2 separate regions of the Homo sapiens genome follow, and region 1 is linked to region 2. The links come from fine-mapping of genetic effects on gene expression. Tissue or cell type: whole blood. Region 2 holds a variant in brackets; the other region holds the start of a gene. All regions are shown on one strand. Distances are between the middles of the regions.

Region 1 (8,102 bases), 360 kb before region 2:
TTGGGACCACGCACAGCCTCTATCCCTGCTACCATGGTCTCTGTTCATAAGCCTATTGCATAAACAATAAGATGGTCCCTAACCAACAAGCCAAGCCATTCATCACTGCCTAGGAGTCAATGCATATCCCTACCTTAGGCTACCTCCTCCAAAATATGGCATGGGTGACCAAATGTACCATTGCTCACTGAGATAATTTTTCTTCACCAGTATGCTTCAGGGCAACGCGAGTGGGGCTGTAATGAAGAACAGTCTGTTTCTGGAAGATGCCAACATGCTGAACTGACCCAATCCCCAATCTGTGCAGAGGCCAAGGCTCTTCTGTCTCCATCAGTTAGTTGTAGGGAACTTTTATAAGGCCATAGGAGTAAGTTTATGGGAGAGGTGGCAGTAGAGCAGAGGTAACTGACCTGGGAGTTTGGAAACGTGGGTTTTGTTTTTTTGCCTTAGAAGGCATGACCTTGCTCCAGAATCTTAGGTATTTGTGCTGTGACTCTTTATGATGGGTTGAATTGTACCTCCACCTCATCCCCAATTAACAGGTTGAAGTTCTAGCCCCTAATACCTCAGAATGTGAAATTATTTGGCAATAGAGGCATTGCAGATGTAATTACTTCAAGATGAGGTCATAGTGGATTAGGGTGGGTCCCTCATCTAATGACTGGTATCCTTATAAAAAAGGGAAGTTTAGAGATAGTACACAGGGAGAATGCCAAATGAAGATGAGGGTAAAGACTGGGAAAATGCTTCTTACGATGCCAAGGAATGCAAAATATATCCAGCAAATCCCCAGAAACTAGGAGAGAGGCATGGACAGATTCCTTCTCACAGCCTCAATAGGAACCACACCTTAATTTCTGACTTCTAGCCTCCAGACTGTGAACCAACAGATTTCTGTTGTTTAAGCCACCCAGTTTGTGGTACTTTGTTATAGGAGCCCTAGCACACGAATGCACACTCTTATTGGGGTTTGCCAGCAACTCCATACAGCACCTGTATCCATCAAGGATATTTCTGGAACCACTGAATTTGCAAGTAAGCTTGCACTGTTGCTTGGATTTACTATAGAGTGCTCTCTTGCCCCAATAAAAAGTGGAAGCTGGCCAGGCATGGTGGCTCACGTCTGTAATCCCAGCACTTTGGGAGGCGGAGGTGGGTGGATTGCTTGAGGTCAGGAGTTCAAGATCAGCCTGGCTAACATGGTGAAACCCCTCCACTACTAAAATACAAAAATGCTGGGCATGGTGGCGGGCGCCTGTAATCCCAGCTACTAGGGAGGCTGAGGCAGGAGAATTGCTTGAATCCAGAAAGCAGAGGTTGCAGTGAGCCGAGATCACGGCACTGTACTCCAGCCTGGGCTACAGAGCAAGACTCCGTGTCAAGAAAAAAAAATAGTAATAAATAAAAAGTGGAAGCTTTTTAGGTCACCTAATACATGTGTTGGAACAGTTTTCTCAGGTGCAGAATATGCTACCTCCCAAATCCAAAGGGGCCCACCAGGACCTGTACCAATTTTTTTGGGATTAGAGGGTGCAAGGTGGAACAACTTTCTTTTACCTTTGGGTGATGTCCCCAAACCACTGGGCCCCACCAAAACTTCATCCATTTGATAAGTGCCCATATCTTCAGGTTTCTGTACTGCCTTAGTAAGAAGTCTTACTAGGATATTTATGACCCTTGTCACTTGCTGCTCACTGGGTACTACTAGCATTTGTCATCAATATATGGACCATCATGATGGTTGGGTAAAGTTCCTGCGGACTACACTGTGACAGAGAACAGGTCTCAGGATCCCACCCTCTCCCTGTATGAGCCACGACTTTGACTCAGGGGACCTGCCGAGTCTGCACAATTGGTCTCCTTTACATTACTGTCACTGTTACAAACAGATCCTCGGCCTAATTTTCAGCTTAGCTAGATGCAGAATTACCTTAGTAATTTATAAAAAATCAGCTATTGTATGTATCTAGATCTATTTCTGGACTTTTTTTTCTTTAAGAAATTCAACCTCATATTTCTGGACTTTCTGTTCTGCTCTGTTGATCTATTTGTCTCTATGCTGATACCATACCATCCTGATTACTGTACCTTTAGGAAAAAAATCTTAAAAAAATACAAGTATTCCAATTTTATTCTTTTTCAAAATTGTTTTGGCAATCCTAAATCCTTAGCATTTCTATATAAACTTTAGAATCAGTTTGTTAATTTGCACTAAAAAAAACAAAACAGGCTCGGTGCAGTGGCTCACGCCTGTAATCCCAGCACTTTGGGAGGCCAAGACGGGCGGATCACCCGAGGTCAGGAGTTTGAGACCAGCCTGGCCAACATGGTGAAACCCCATCTCTACTAAAAATACAAAAATTAGCTAGGTGTGGTGGTGCCCACCTGTAATCCCATCTACTCTGGAGGCTGAGGCAGGGAAAATGCTTGAACCTGGGAGCTGGAGGTTGCAGTGAGCTGAGATCGCGCCACTGCACTCCAGCCTGGGCGACAGAGCAAGACTCTGTCTCAACAACAACAAAAAGACAAAAACGAAAAAAGGTAACAATTTTTTGAGTTGTTTCCACCTCTGTCATCTGGCAAACTGTTAAAAGAAAATTTTGCTCAAAAGCAAAATAGCAGCTGCTGTTTCTTAACACTTTGTTATGTTTTGATGAGTACTGGTGGGAAGTGGCCTCTTTAAGTGGGTACCTTTTGTGGTCCTCTCACTGGAGCCAATTGCCTGAGTCAGCTAAAACTTGGACGCGATGTGCCTCACTGCCATAGCTCACTCACCTTTGCTGCTGAAATGGTTTCCCATCACATTGCTAATAGGTACAACCTGTGAAGGGTTCTAGGTGGGGAAATGGCAACTCAGGAAGAACTCCAAACCTTTAGCTCTCCTAGGATATTAAAATGGCCGTTATGAAGAGGAAGAAGTACTGTGTCATCTATTGTCCTGGGGACCTGTCAACAGGAACAATAGATAGACATCACCAGGGGTGTATTTCTGTTCAACACAAGGAAAAGTTTCTAATTGGAGCTGTCCAGCATGAAATGGACTAAGCAGTGCATTTTCTTTCTCCGATCCTGACTCCACTGTGACGGGCACTGCAGACTAGAGAGATTGTGTCCTAGTATGAATTTAGGTTGGATAAATGATACTTAGGGATAAAGAGAGGAAAGGAATATCAGAATCTCCAAGAAGCTGATACATTTTGAAAAAATATATAAAATGCCACACTTCAGGTTTTCTTGTGTTTAATTTGAAACGTCCAGTAACATTAAAGAACAGCATTTGATTTGCTTAAACAAAGTAGTAACAGCTGAAGTTCCTTCCAAATCACTTTTCTGATTCTCTAAGAGGCTTGCCTATGCCTTGCAGATCTAGCTTCACCTACAAGACATATTCTGTAAGGATCCAGGTTCAGCAAGGTGTCAGAATGTCCTAAGGGTTTCTGTCCCGGCGCTCTGCCTGTCCCGCTTGTGCACAATGCTTTTGCCTATCCCTGTTTCTGCATAGATTTTAGTCTTCCCACCAGGGACGCAACTGTCAGTTTCCTCCGTCTCTCTCGGTTCTATTCCAATCTGCTCATCTCCCCTCCCGTCCCCGCTTTCCCCAAGGACCTACTGAGATTTCGATCCCACAACTTAGTGGGTCCCATCTCACCCAGGCCCCGCAATCCTCGCCTTCTACTTGTCAGCGTTGTACTACACTCTGAGCAGGCACCCCTGTGCTACTCACGGAAGCGGGACCATTAGGTCGGCCATTCCTCCTCACCCCACGACACGCACCCACTGGGTCGGGCCGCCTCCTTGCAGGGAGTCTCAAGGATGGGCTGGCGTCAGGGAGGGGCCCAGGGGGCGCTTTCCCAACACTGGTCGCAGTCATTGTTGGTATAACGGCTAGAGACGCCCAGTGAGTTAGCATGGAGGGCAGTGGGACCGGAAAAAGACGTGGAAAAGCTGCGAAAACGAGCCTTCGAATCATGGACGCGCGGGCCCAGCTCCTCCTCCGAGTTCCTCATCCGGGGCCGTCACTCACATCCGGGGCCCTCACTCACATCCGGGACCCTCATCCGGGGCTCTCACCCACATCCGGGACCCTCATGCCTGGGCGGAGGAGGGGGGGCCCTCATTCGGGACCCTGCACTCCGTCGCCGGAAGTGCCACCGAGAAGCGCCGGCCTCGGGGCTGTCTACAGCGGCCCGGGAGAGGCTGTGGTGGCCCCGAGCGCGAGTGTGTAGGTGACAGGACAGCGGCCAGGCCCGCCCCTCCCCTCGGTGAGTACCCGGAAGCCGTTTTGGGGTCGCAGCGGGGTGGCAGCTTGTTTTGCCTTCACGGGAGTAGAAGGAGGCGGCGTCCGGCCGCGGCCGACGGTAGTTCGCTTCCCCGAGAGTGCGCGGAGGCCCGGGTGCGAGGAGGGCCTGTTTCTCTTCAGCCCTGGTTCATTCACCTCGCGGACCGAGGGCCCCGCCGTCAGGAGCCGGCGACCGTGCCCTGGTGCGAGCTGGTCTGTATGTCCTCACTGGTCCTTTTGGGACTTTGCCTTGGCCTAAAAGGGAAGTGGGAGGAGGGCAGCGCCGGGCAAGGCCTTCTGAGGACCGAGCTGGGAGCCGGGCAGGGGCCCAGGGCGAGGGTGGTGGGAGGGGGACGGCACCCTCATGCGTCCTTGGGCCTGAAGGACGCCGCTCAAACCTGTTCGAACCGCAGCTCTTACCTGCGTTGCTCTCAGGATTCCGGGAAAAGGCCGGTCTAGCTGGTCTGAGTTAGCGAAGGGCCTGACCCCAAAAGTGGAGTTTTATTCGCCAAGCCCGTGTAGTAAATCGGAGTGGGCTGACGGTGTTACCAAGACATTTCCTAGGGGGCCTGCTGTTTTATTTATTTAAATGAGTTTATTTACGTAAACGCGGGCCTGTCACGGTGGTTCACGCCGTAATCCCCGCACTTTGGGAGGCCGAAGTGGGAGGATCGCTTGAGGCCAGGCGTTCGAGTCCAGCCTGGGCAACATAGCGAGACTCCCATCTCTGCTAAAACAAAATTAAAATAAAATGAGCAATCATAACTAGCATTTTTCTCTGGGCACCAACTTGAGCCTCCAAAGACGATTGTAAATTTTAAATATTTTGTTTTGTTTATTTGAGGTGGGCTGTCACGCTGTCATACAGGCTGGAATGCAGTGGCGCAGTCATAGCTCACTGCAGCCTCTACCTCCCAAGCTCAAGCGATTCTCCTGCCTTGGCCTTTGGAGTAGCTGGAACTACAGGCCTGGGCCACCTAATTTTTTTTTTTTTTTTTTTTTTTGTAGGGACGGGGTTTCACCATGTTGTCCAGGACGGTCTGGAACTCCTGAGCTTAAGGGATCCACCCGTCTGTGCCTCCCAAACTGTTGGGATTACAGGCTTGAGCCACCGCACGTGGCCAATTTTAAATATTTTAAAGTTTCCACAGAAAGCTTTACACTATTAAATTGTACCGTGTTAATTTTTTTAATGCCACAAATTCCAAATTAGAGACTCTTCTATGATTTGGTTCTTAAGTATTTAAAGCTGAAGCATATCCATATTTCTTTTTCTTTTTTTTCTTTTTTTTTTTTTTGGGACGGAGTCTCACTGTGTTGCCCAGGTTGGAGTGCAGTGGTGCAATCTTGGCTCACTGCCACGTATGCCTTCTGTATTCAAGCAATTCTCCTGCCTCAGCCTCCCGAATAGCTGGGATTACAGACCCGCACCACCACGCTGGCTAATTTTTGTATTTTTAGTAGAGAAGAAGTTGCACCATGTTGATCAGGCTGGTCTTGAACTCCTGACCTCAAGTGATCTTCCCGCCTCAGCCTCCCAAAGTGCTGGGATTACAGGCCACTGCGCCTGGCCCCATTTTTCTGTTACTTATTTAGGGTGGTTAATCATTATCAACTAATTTTTATTGAATATCCATAGTGTGTAAGATCCTTTGCAAAGTCCTGACGATATAAAATGATGAAATGCTTTAACTTATTACAGTAATTTCTCTTAATCTTACCTTGCAGTGATGGTCATTGTCCTCCAGAGCAGTGATGGAGGAAATACCAGCCCAGGAAGCAGCAGGGTCACCAAGGGTCCAGTTTCAGTCTTTGGAGACCCAGTCTGAGTGTCTGTCCCCAGAGCCTCAGTTTGTGCAGGACACCGACATGGAACAGGGACTCACTGGGGGTAAGGCAGAGAAAGCACTTCCGTCTGGGAGAGTGGGAGTGCGGAGGGGCTCCCGAGGGGGCTCCTGGGCCTGGTTTGAGAGAGGCCAAGAACTGGAATAAGAACATGGTCCCTAGAGGGAGGAATGAAAGAGGGGGCAGATGTGACTCAGTTCAGTCCTAGTCTGAGCCCCTTTATTAAGGATAGCTCATCTTTCTCAAATAAGCAGAGTGATGGCTGCTTACTCGCTGTGGTGGTTTTTCCTTCAGGCAACCTTCACTTCATCCCAGTTCTCACATCCAGAATAATTTCTAAGATATGCTGCTTTTGCCACATCTCACAGTCCTTTCCTGGCTCTCACTTCCTCTTAGGTTCAGGACCTTTCTTTCCCCTGTTCCCTTCACTTAGTTTTTCTTTGCTTTGTCACCTGCCATCCATTCTGTTGTAACTGCAGTGTTTTGTGACTAGACTAAATTTGGTCAAGGAAGCAACCATTTAATTCCTTGGTTGAACACAATGCCTGTATGAATGTATATATACTGTATTTTGACTACGCAGTCACACTTTGCTGTATCGTATAGGTAGGTTGGTCTTTTTCTTCCTTTGTTTTATAAGAGCTGTGTCTTAGATTGCCTGTGGTTAACTCTAGTGCCTGAAATAACTTGTGTGTCACCCACACAGATCAAGTGCCACAATGTGTAGAGTGCTGTGGGGGATTGTGGGACTGTGGAAAAGATTTCGAGGAAACAGATGACCCTTTCTTGTTCTTGGGGGCCTTACACACTGGTTGAGACAGCACCCATTCACAAGAGAAACGCTGATCAAGTGTCTAGAACAGTGCCTGGAAAGGGTCAGAAGTCTGCTAAATAACCCTAGCCCAGGACAAGTCCCCACAAGTCTTTATGCTTTGCTTTGCCCATCTGCAAAACAGGTATAGTCTTACTCTTCTGTAAGAGGACTGTCATGTGATGAAGATAAAGTGAAATACAAGCTTTCCTAAGAAAATCCTGTATCACAGGTCAAAACACGCATAAGGCATGCAAGTACTGAGACGAAGCAGAGTAGACACACCCAATACCTGAAAAATGTTCATTGGTTTTACTAGAGTATTGAGGAGGGTCCTGCTGACACCCCTTGGGCTGGAGAGGCCTCCTCTGAAAGGGAGCCCTGGGAAAGGGCTGCTCTCACTCTTCACTCCTTTCTCCTCCCTCAGCTCCACCTGTTCCTCAGGTGCCTGCTCTTCCCCGTGAGGGAAGCCCAGGAGACCAGGCAGCTGCGCTCTTGACAGCCAGGTACCAGGTGAGCTGAGGAACCCTCTGCTTTTCCTCAGGGACTATTGCTACTGATGGAGTGTGGCCTCTCTCTCATCCCATCTGTAGACCTTGCCTGGAATTTTTTTCAATAGCAGACTCCAGTTTGGGAATTGATCCTCTTCGGAGACCTGGACTTCACATAAACCAACTTCCCATCTCCCCAGTGCCATGAGCAAACTCTGTTTTCTCTTTGTCCATGGTTGTGTGATGGGTGCTTATTAGATGTTTAAGGGTTATGGGCTTTATTCCGTAGGTTCTAATCTGTTCTCCCTCCTCCTCAACGTAAGTACACAGTGGATACCCTCTCTATGATCTTCATTCTCTGGCCATGGTGCTACAGTGTTCTCATTCCTCAGAGCAGCCAGGATGTGTTATTTCAGGAGTTTGTGACATTCGAGGATGTGGCTGTGCACCTTACTCGAGAGGAATGGGGATACCTGGACCCTGTTCAGAGGGACCTCTACAGAGAAGTGATGTTAGAGAATTATGGGAACGTGGTCTCACTGGGTAAGGACTTCCTTATTATTCGGTTTATCTATTTGAATTTCTTTACTTTCTTGTTTCTTCCTAAGTATAAGGTCTCTGAGAAGGTCTGTAGAGTGTGGCTTAGATTCCAGGACTTAGAACCTCTGAATCCTTA
Region 2 (8,102 bases):
TTTTTCTTTATTATGAGCTCCCCAAGGGCCAGTTTATTGAAAATTCTGCACAATGATTGCTGAGGTTTGCACCTCCCCTCCTCTCATTCCAGTTTTAACCCTAGCTCTGAAATTCGTGTTTTGCTTAACTTCTTTGAGTTTCAGGGGCTTTTCATGCTTCCAGTAGGAATGACAGCCACTTCGTGGCTCTTTTAGGAGCATTAAGTAAACTTTATCGGGCAACACTGACAGCCCCGTCATAGTCACCGCGACGGCCAGCTCACCCGGTAGCTCTCGAAGGCCTCGTCGATGGGTGCCATGGCGTGAGTCTGGTGCTCCTGGGACTCCCTGCACACCAGGCACACTGGCCGCTGGTCGTCCTCGCAGAAGAGCCGCAGCGGCTCCCAGTGGCGGCCGCACAGGCCCGGGGGCACGGGGCCCAGGCGCCGGCGCTGCGTCTTCTCAGTCAGCCTGGCCAGGGCCCAGTTGGGTCGCAGCGCGGCGGGCGCCGATGGGTGCCGACATTCGGGGCAGGGGAACGGGCCGCCGCCCGGCGCCCAGTTGCGGTGCAGGCAGCCGCGGCAGAAGTTGTGGCCGCACTCGATGGACACCGGGTCCTGGAAATAGTCCAGGCAGATGGGGCAGGTCAACTCCTCCTGGATGTCCTCAGCTTCCATGCTGCTTCCCTGCCGCGGAGACGGAGTCCGACGTGAGGCGCGGGAGAGGCCAGCAAGCTGCGAGCGGCCGCGGGGAGGCCAGACGACTTCCGAACCGCCGTCACCGCCTCACGTAAAAGGGTACAACGCAGTTTCTCTTCCGGGGTTCAGGACCCAAAAAGAACGCACGGACGTTGCCCGGCCTGAGCGCGCAAGACCGGAAGCTGCTGGGTATCCGCGCCGGAACCGCGAGGGGGTTGGTTCAGGCCTAGGCGCGGGGCAGGACGGGACCGGTGAGTGGCTCCTCCAAACAGCTATAGAGACCCAGAAATGCCTGTGGAAAGCTACAGAGGACTTGGGCAAGGCGTTAGAGCCGGACGTTGTGGTCCCTGGGGGAGCCAACCGGGGAGGTGCCTATGATCTTTCTTTCCAAGTTTGAGGGTTCAGGTCTGTGTTCGCCTGCTGGTTAGACCGATTTAAGTTTTAGAGTCCCAGGAGTTCTGGGCGAGCTGCAGCCTAGGGGCCTGGAAGGCCAGGAAGACTTGAAGGATCTGTGTTGGTAGGCCTGGAGTTTGGCTAACGTGGGGATGATTTGGATTCTGAGATGCAGATACATTGCCTTTTTGGTATCCAATTTGAAAAGTAGCAACCATTTTGCTATCCCAAAGAACATCCATGGAGGCTTTCAACAAATAATATGCTCACCTGTTTCAGGGAATTATCTATATCCCTTAAGTGGATTTTCGATCTTGTGTTTCTGAGGTGCTTTGCTTTTTATTCTTCCCACTTTCTTCCTTTTCTTGTGAATATTTGTTTAAAACAAAAAAAACTCTGGACTGACAAATTTAATAGAAGCTATTTGCACAAAGAACAGTTCATGAATTGGGCAGCACTCAGAACCAAAAGAGGTTCAGAGAGCTCTGTCCAGCAGTATGACCTGCTAGCTTTTATAGGAAGCAAAGTAGAGAAATCACCTCATTAGCTAACATCTAGGTGTCTGCCTTATTTGACAATGATATGATGAGGCATTTGCCTTATTGGGGCATGGTCTGATCAGTTGGCTGTCTGTTATTTGCTGAAGCTCGGCCGTGATTGGCTGAAACCCAGCTGTTATAAAAAATAAAGTAAGTTAGGCTTCAGTTCGTTTACATACTAAGTCAGGTTGTATTTTGTTATATGGGAACTCAAGTACCAAGACAGCCTCAGGCTAATGGGCTTTTGCTTATTTAACAGATTTTTCATTCTTTTTATGTCCCAATATCAAATACTGCCTTTCCTATAATAATTTTTCTCAGTAAGTAGTATGATTAAATGATTAGAAAAAGGGGTTCTTGAGGTATCTGTTTGGGGGTTATTGATGAAAGTTCCACTGAATATTTCTAAAACATTTAAATTGGACAACTAATGAATGGATTTTCTTTGCAAATTGGAATACTCTATGGAGAAGGGATCTGGTTCTTTAATAGGGACCAAGCAGGAAGGAATGCTCTTAACAGTTACTGATGTTTACCATGAGTGTTTATGGCATCTGTGTGTCTATATGTTTACCTAAGTATTGAATGAGAAGTTTCAGCATTCCTGCAAAGTATTTATTCCCCTTACAGTAGTCATTTAAATCTTTTCAGGTAAATCCCTTAAAATCCTTATGTCTTTATTCCTGCCATACCAGAGATGACCTTCCTTCTTTACTAAGTGAGGCTCCCTAATTAACAATTTTTCTCCATCACAAAATGTCTATAAGTCTGTATACCAGCCAAGGTTCATTCAGAGAAGTGGAATCACTATGTTTCTTTATGTTCGCAGGGCAAGCAGTTAAGAAGGGAAGATGAACATAAAGTAGGGAAGAGCAAAAATGAGTTGGAACCTAAGACACGAGCTGGTCATTCTTTCACTGTCTCCAACTTTAAAGATATGAGTATCCTTGCTAGAGGAGCTGACACTTTTTGCCACAGGACTAGACACACACACAGCTCAGGAATCAAAAAAGGTGAAGGAAGACTCAGGGAAAAGCTTCTGCCCCATCCCAACAAGGTGAACCAGCTGATTGGTGACAAAGTAGATGAGCCGCAGTAGCACCTAGTGTCCCTGCACCACCGTTTCAAGTATAAAACTGGAGGGATGCTTCAGTTCTCCCCTTCAAGACTTACACAACCATGTCTCTGTTGGGCTATTCTAACCAGAAACAAAAGGAAAGGAAATTCTGGGAAACATAGTTTAGCTTAGCAAAGTTGATATATTACAAAATTACCACTGTCCACTCTGCATCGAGTTGACATCCATACAGACCTCTTTAAAACACACTTTCAAAATAAAGTCCACACCCTACACATAAGCTATCTCTAGAGAAATTTGAAGTCTGTTGTGCACTGAGGATAACCACAACAACAAACTGTAAACCTAGCCCAATTTCTGACTAGACTGATACCACCGAACCACTGCTATGCACTCAAGAGCACTAAAGGCCTAGCAGAAGGAAAGACACACTCATCTCCAAGCATAAAAACAATCTTTACTTCATACTGTGAAGAGAGAATTGAAAAAATAATTTAAGCAAAAAAAATACAACATGACTAACTTTTAACAGAAAGAAAAAAAGACGCATACAGAAAGGCAAGAAAAAACACAGTCCAAAGAGATAAAACAATCATTAGAACCAGATTCATAAGACATAGACATTAGAAATATGAGAGAATTTTAAATAACTGTGATTAATGTGATGAAGGCCCTAAGGGGAAAGGTGAACAAAATGCAAGCTCAGATGGGTGATTTTAGCAAATAGATGGAAACTATCAGGAAAAATAAAATGGAAACTATAAAAATAAAAAATATAATAATAGAGATGAAGAATGCCCTCCATGGGCCCATTAGGAGACTGAACACAGTTGAGGAAAAAATCAGACTTGAAGGTAGGTAAATAGAAATTGCTGAAACACACACACACACACACACAAAAAGAGTGACAGAAACAGAACACAGCATCCAAGACTGGTGGGAAAATATCAACATCAAATCAAGAAATAGGCGCAGTGGCTCACCCCTGTAATCCCAGCACTTGGGGAGGCCGAGGCAGGCAGATCACGAGGTCAGGAGATCGAGACCATCCTAGCTAACGCAGTGAAACCCCGTCTCTACTAAAAATTCAAAAAAATTAGCCGGGCATGGTAGCAGGCACCTGTCGTCCCAGCTACTCGGGAGGCTGAGGTAAGAGAATTGCGTGAACCCGGGAGGCGGAGCTTGCAGTGAGCTGAGATCACACCACTGCACTCCAGCCTGGGCGACAGAGCAAGACTCTATCTCAAAAAAAAAAAAAAAATCAAGAAATAATGGCTGAGAATTTCCAAAATTTGTAAGACACCAAACCAATCCAAGGAGCTCAGAGAACACAGAGCAGGATAAATTCTTTAAAAAGAAACTAAGCTTATTGTATTCAAACTAAGCTTATTGTATTGATACCTGGTAGTTATAACTTACCAAATACACTGCCCAACATCTCCAGATGATCTATTATTTCTGAAAGTTTCCTTTATTACATTTCTTACTTCAGGGAGATATAGCCTTCGCTTCATGTTATGGTTGGTGCAGTCAGTATTCTCAGAAAGAAAGTACTGGTTCCATTTTACCTCCATCTTTTGTTTCCTGTCAGAAAACCTACCATACCACCAAGTACTCCTTCTCTACACTGCCTCTGATATTTAAGTAATTTGAGAATTCTGTTGAGACTATCTCCCTTTTTTGGTATGATGAATCTGGTCCTAAATTGCATGCCAAAGACTTTGAGAACTAAACTGTAGACCCAGATCTCATGTCCCAGACTGGCCTTTTGTTACCCACACAATGAATGGGTTAAATTGCTTGGCAGGGGACAGTCCAATGACCACAACCAAGGAGGATTTCCCAGGGGGATTTTATTACTTGCGATAAGTAAGGAGGACACTGGGAATAATTCCCCAAAGCAATGCCTCCCTGAGCAATGGTGCAAACATGGCTTTTATTAGTCTGGTTAGCTGAGTCATTGTATGTAGAGGTGGAGTCAAGGCAGCGCAGTCCCAGTTGTCGGTTATGCTGCTACATATGTCACATGTATAGAAAATGGTGAATAAGCTCCTCCTTGGACAGGATTTTAAGTATGGTGATGAGGAAAGTTGGCCAAAGTTCATCTCCAACTCAGGCATCTCTGGGTCCAACTGGTCTTTGTTTTTCCTGGGCTAAGCTTCTTCCTGGAACTTTTTAAAACAAAAATTCAAGATGTAACAGTTACAAGTGTGTAACTTTTTCACAGTGC[G/A]TACCCAAAACCCAAGGACCCTGGGTTACACTTTAGGTGCCACCCATGTGGGACCTATCAGAAGAGTACTACAAAGGCTTTGAAAACTGAACTGACATTGGAACCACAACCCTCAGAAGGCTGGTCAAAACTTATGACTTGAACCCAAATGGGTTAATTACCCTTTAAAACATAAATATCAACATCCTCCACCAAATTTAACCAAGACCCAGAGCATCCTAATGACATTCAAAATGTCCAGGATACAATCGATATTAATTGGCAGGTGAAGAACCAGGAAAATCTCAACTCACGTTGGGAAAAAATGTAACAGATGCAGAATGTAAGTTGCCACACATGTTGGAATTATCAAGACTATAAAGCTGCTATTCAAATGGAAAGTTTAAAAGTCTCAGAGAAGTAATAGAAAATACAAAGAATAGCCCCATGGAAATTTTAGAACGGGAAAATACAAAAACCGTCATCACATCATATCCGGGGCACATGCTGTCAACATTGCTCATCACTGTTGATGTTAACCTTGATCACCCGGCTGAGGTAGTATTTGATGGGTTTCTCCCTGTAAAGTTATTCTTTCCCCTCCCCCTATTTTACTGTTTAGTGGGAAGTCACTATGTGCAGCCCATGCCTAAAAAGGGAGTAGTTGGTGGGCACGGTGGCTCACGCCTGTAATCCCAGCACTTTGGGAGGCTGAGTGGGTGGATCACCTGAGGTCAGGAGTTCGAGACCAGCTTGGCCGACATGGTGAAACCCCGTCTCTGCTAAAAATACAAAAATTAGCCAGGCATGGTGGTGCACGCCTGTAATCCCAGCTATTCAGGAGGCTGAGGCAGGAGAACTGCTTGAACCTGGGAGGCAGAGATTGCAGTGATCCTGCCATTGCACTCCAGCCTGGGCGATGAGCAAAATTCCATCTCAAAAGAAAAAAAAGTGAGTAGTTATATTTCCCCTCCTTGCGGTGGAGTATCTACATTCTTCTGCATGAGAAATTTGTCAGTTATCTCCTATTTATTCAATTATTTATATTATGAATTCATGGATTCCTATTTTATACTTTGGGTATAATCCAATACTATGTTGTTTATTTTACTGCTCAGATTATTCCTGTGTTGGCCATTGGGAACTTTTTCAGTTGACATCTGTGTCCCTTTGACAAACTCCTGTCATTTTGTGGGGAAGAGGGAGTAGCACTTTCTTACTTTCTACCGCTACAAAATCCTCCAGTCTTATCTTGTATTTCTCTTCCCTAACCCTAAAGTCAATCATTCTCATTTCTCTAATGATAAATGATGTTAAACATCTTTTCATATGCTTTCTTATTATCTGTATATCTTCTCTGATGATTACCAAGGATGGGAAGGGTAGTAGGGGGAAAGTGGAGATGGTTAATGGGTACAAAAAATAGAATGAATAAGAATTAGTAGTTGATAGCACAACAGGGTGATTACAGTCAAAAATAATTGTACATTATAAAATAACTAGTATAATTGGATTATTTATAACAAAGGCTGAAGGCTTGAGGTGATAAATACCCCATTTACCCTGATGTGACTATTACACATTGCATACCTGTATCAAAATACCTTGTATACCCCATAAATATATAACCTACTATGTACCCATTTAAATAAAAAAAGTTTTTAAAAAAGAAATAGTGCTGAGACAATTGAATATCCACATGCAAAAGATAAAGTTTGACATTTATCTTACACCATACACAAAAATTAACTCAAAACCAACCAGAGACCTAAATGTAAGAGCTGAAACTATACAACTCTTATGGAAACATAGGCATTAATCTTTATGGCTGTGAATTAGGCAATAGTTTCTTAGGTAATACACAAAAATCATAAGCAACAAAAGAAAAAATTGGATGTTAGACTTCATTAAAATTTAAAACTTTTGTGCATCACTATCAAGAAAGTGAAAGACAATCATAGAATGGGAGAAGATATTTGGAAATCATACATACAATAAGTATCTAATACCCACAATATATAAAGAGCTCTTACAATGCAACAACAAAAATACAAAAAACTCTATTTATAAATGGGAAAAGGATTTGAATAGACATTTCTCCAAAGAAGATATACAAATAACCACTAAGCACATGGAAAATGTTCAATGTAATTAGCCATTAGGCAAGTGCAAATCAAAACTACAATGAGATACCACTTCACACCCACTAGGATGGCTAGAATTTAATAGATAAATAAAAAGTATTCCCACATTGCTGGTAGGAATGTAAAAATAGTGCAGCTGCTGTGGAAAAGAGTTTGGCAGTTCCTCAAAAGTTGAAACGTGGAGTTTCCTTATGACCCAGACATTCTATTCCTGGTTATTTATGCAAGAGAACTGACAACATGTGTTTACACAACACTAAAACTGGGGCCAGGTGTGGTGGCTCAGGACTGTTGTTCCAGCACTTTGGGAAGCTGAGGCAGGCAGATAACCTGAGGTCAGGAGTTTGAGACCAGCCTGGCCAACATGGCAAAACCCTGTCTCTACAAAAAATACAAAAATTAGCTGGGTGTGGTGGTGCGCACCTGTAGTCCCAGGTACTCAGGACGCTGAAGCAGGAGAATCGCTTGAACCCAGGAAGTGGAGGTTGCAATAAGCCAAGATCACACCACTGCACTCCAGTCTGGGTGACAGAGTGAGACTCCATCCCAAAAAAAAAAAAAAAAGTGGTACACATATGTTCATAGCAACAGTGGTCATAAGAGCCAAAAAATGGAAACAACCCAAATGTCCTGAAACTGAAGAATGTATAAACAAAATGTGGTATCTCCTTAAACAAAATGTGGTATATCCTAACAGTGGAATAACACTCAACCATATAAAGGAATGTAATACTGAAACATGCCACAACATGAATGAACCTCAAGTTATGCTCAGTGAAAGAAGCCAGACATGAAAGACCACATATTGCATGATTCCATTTGTATGAAAGAGTAGGAAAACCAATAGAGACAAAACCATATGATGGTTGCATGTTTTGGGTGCTAATAAGAGTTTGAGAGTAACATGAGGGGGTAGGGTTTTTTTAAGTTGATGAAAATGTTATTAAATTGGTAGTGTTGATGGATATACAACTCTGAATATACTAAAGGCTATTTAATTGTATACTTTTGTCACTGGTAGAGGATAGTGACTGCAAGTTGTCCAGGTTCTTGGCGTTTTGA

Evidence for each region. PIP is the estimated chance that this variant, and not a neighbour inherited with it, causes the effect.
Region 1: it holds the start of ZNF655, and the variant in region 2 is fine-mapped to the expression of ZNF655 in whole blood (TOPMed, PIP above 0.99).

Annotation. Positions count from the first base shown.
Region 1 is chr7:99,554,526-99,562,627 of GRCh38, forward strand. It overlaps ZNF655 (zinc finger protein 655), which reads left to right and starts at 4,117. Exons shown (of 3, transcript NM_138494.3): 1 at 4,117-4,262; 2 at 6,008-6,170. The coding sequence starts at 6,035. It overlaps LOC105375422 (a long non-coding RNA gene), which reads left to right. Exons shown (of 3, transcript XR_927801.4): 3 at 211-1,432. It also overlaps a transcript of FAM200A not described here. RefSeq lists enhancers at 3,762-3,891, 3,922-4,191.
Region 2 is chr7:99,918,746-99,926,847 of GRCh38, forward strand. TRIM4 (tripartite motif containing 4) reads right to left here and starts at 785. Exons shown (of 6, transcript NM_033091.3): 1 at 264-785. The coding sequence starts at 656. GJC3 (gap junction protein gamma 3) reads right to left here. Exons shown (of 2, transcript NM_181538.3): 2 at 4,521-4,858. The coding sequence ends at 4,800. It overlaps LOC101927610 (a long non-coding RNA gene), which reads left to right and starts at 858. Exons shown (of 2, transcript XR_001745296.3): 1 at 858-1,082; 2 at 2,439-6,569. RefSeq lists a silencer at 357-516 and enhancers at 647-696, 727-806, 1,047-1,156. The variant G/A (reference allele first, on the strand shown) is at 4,918.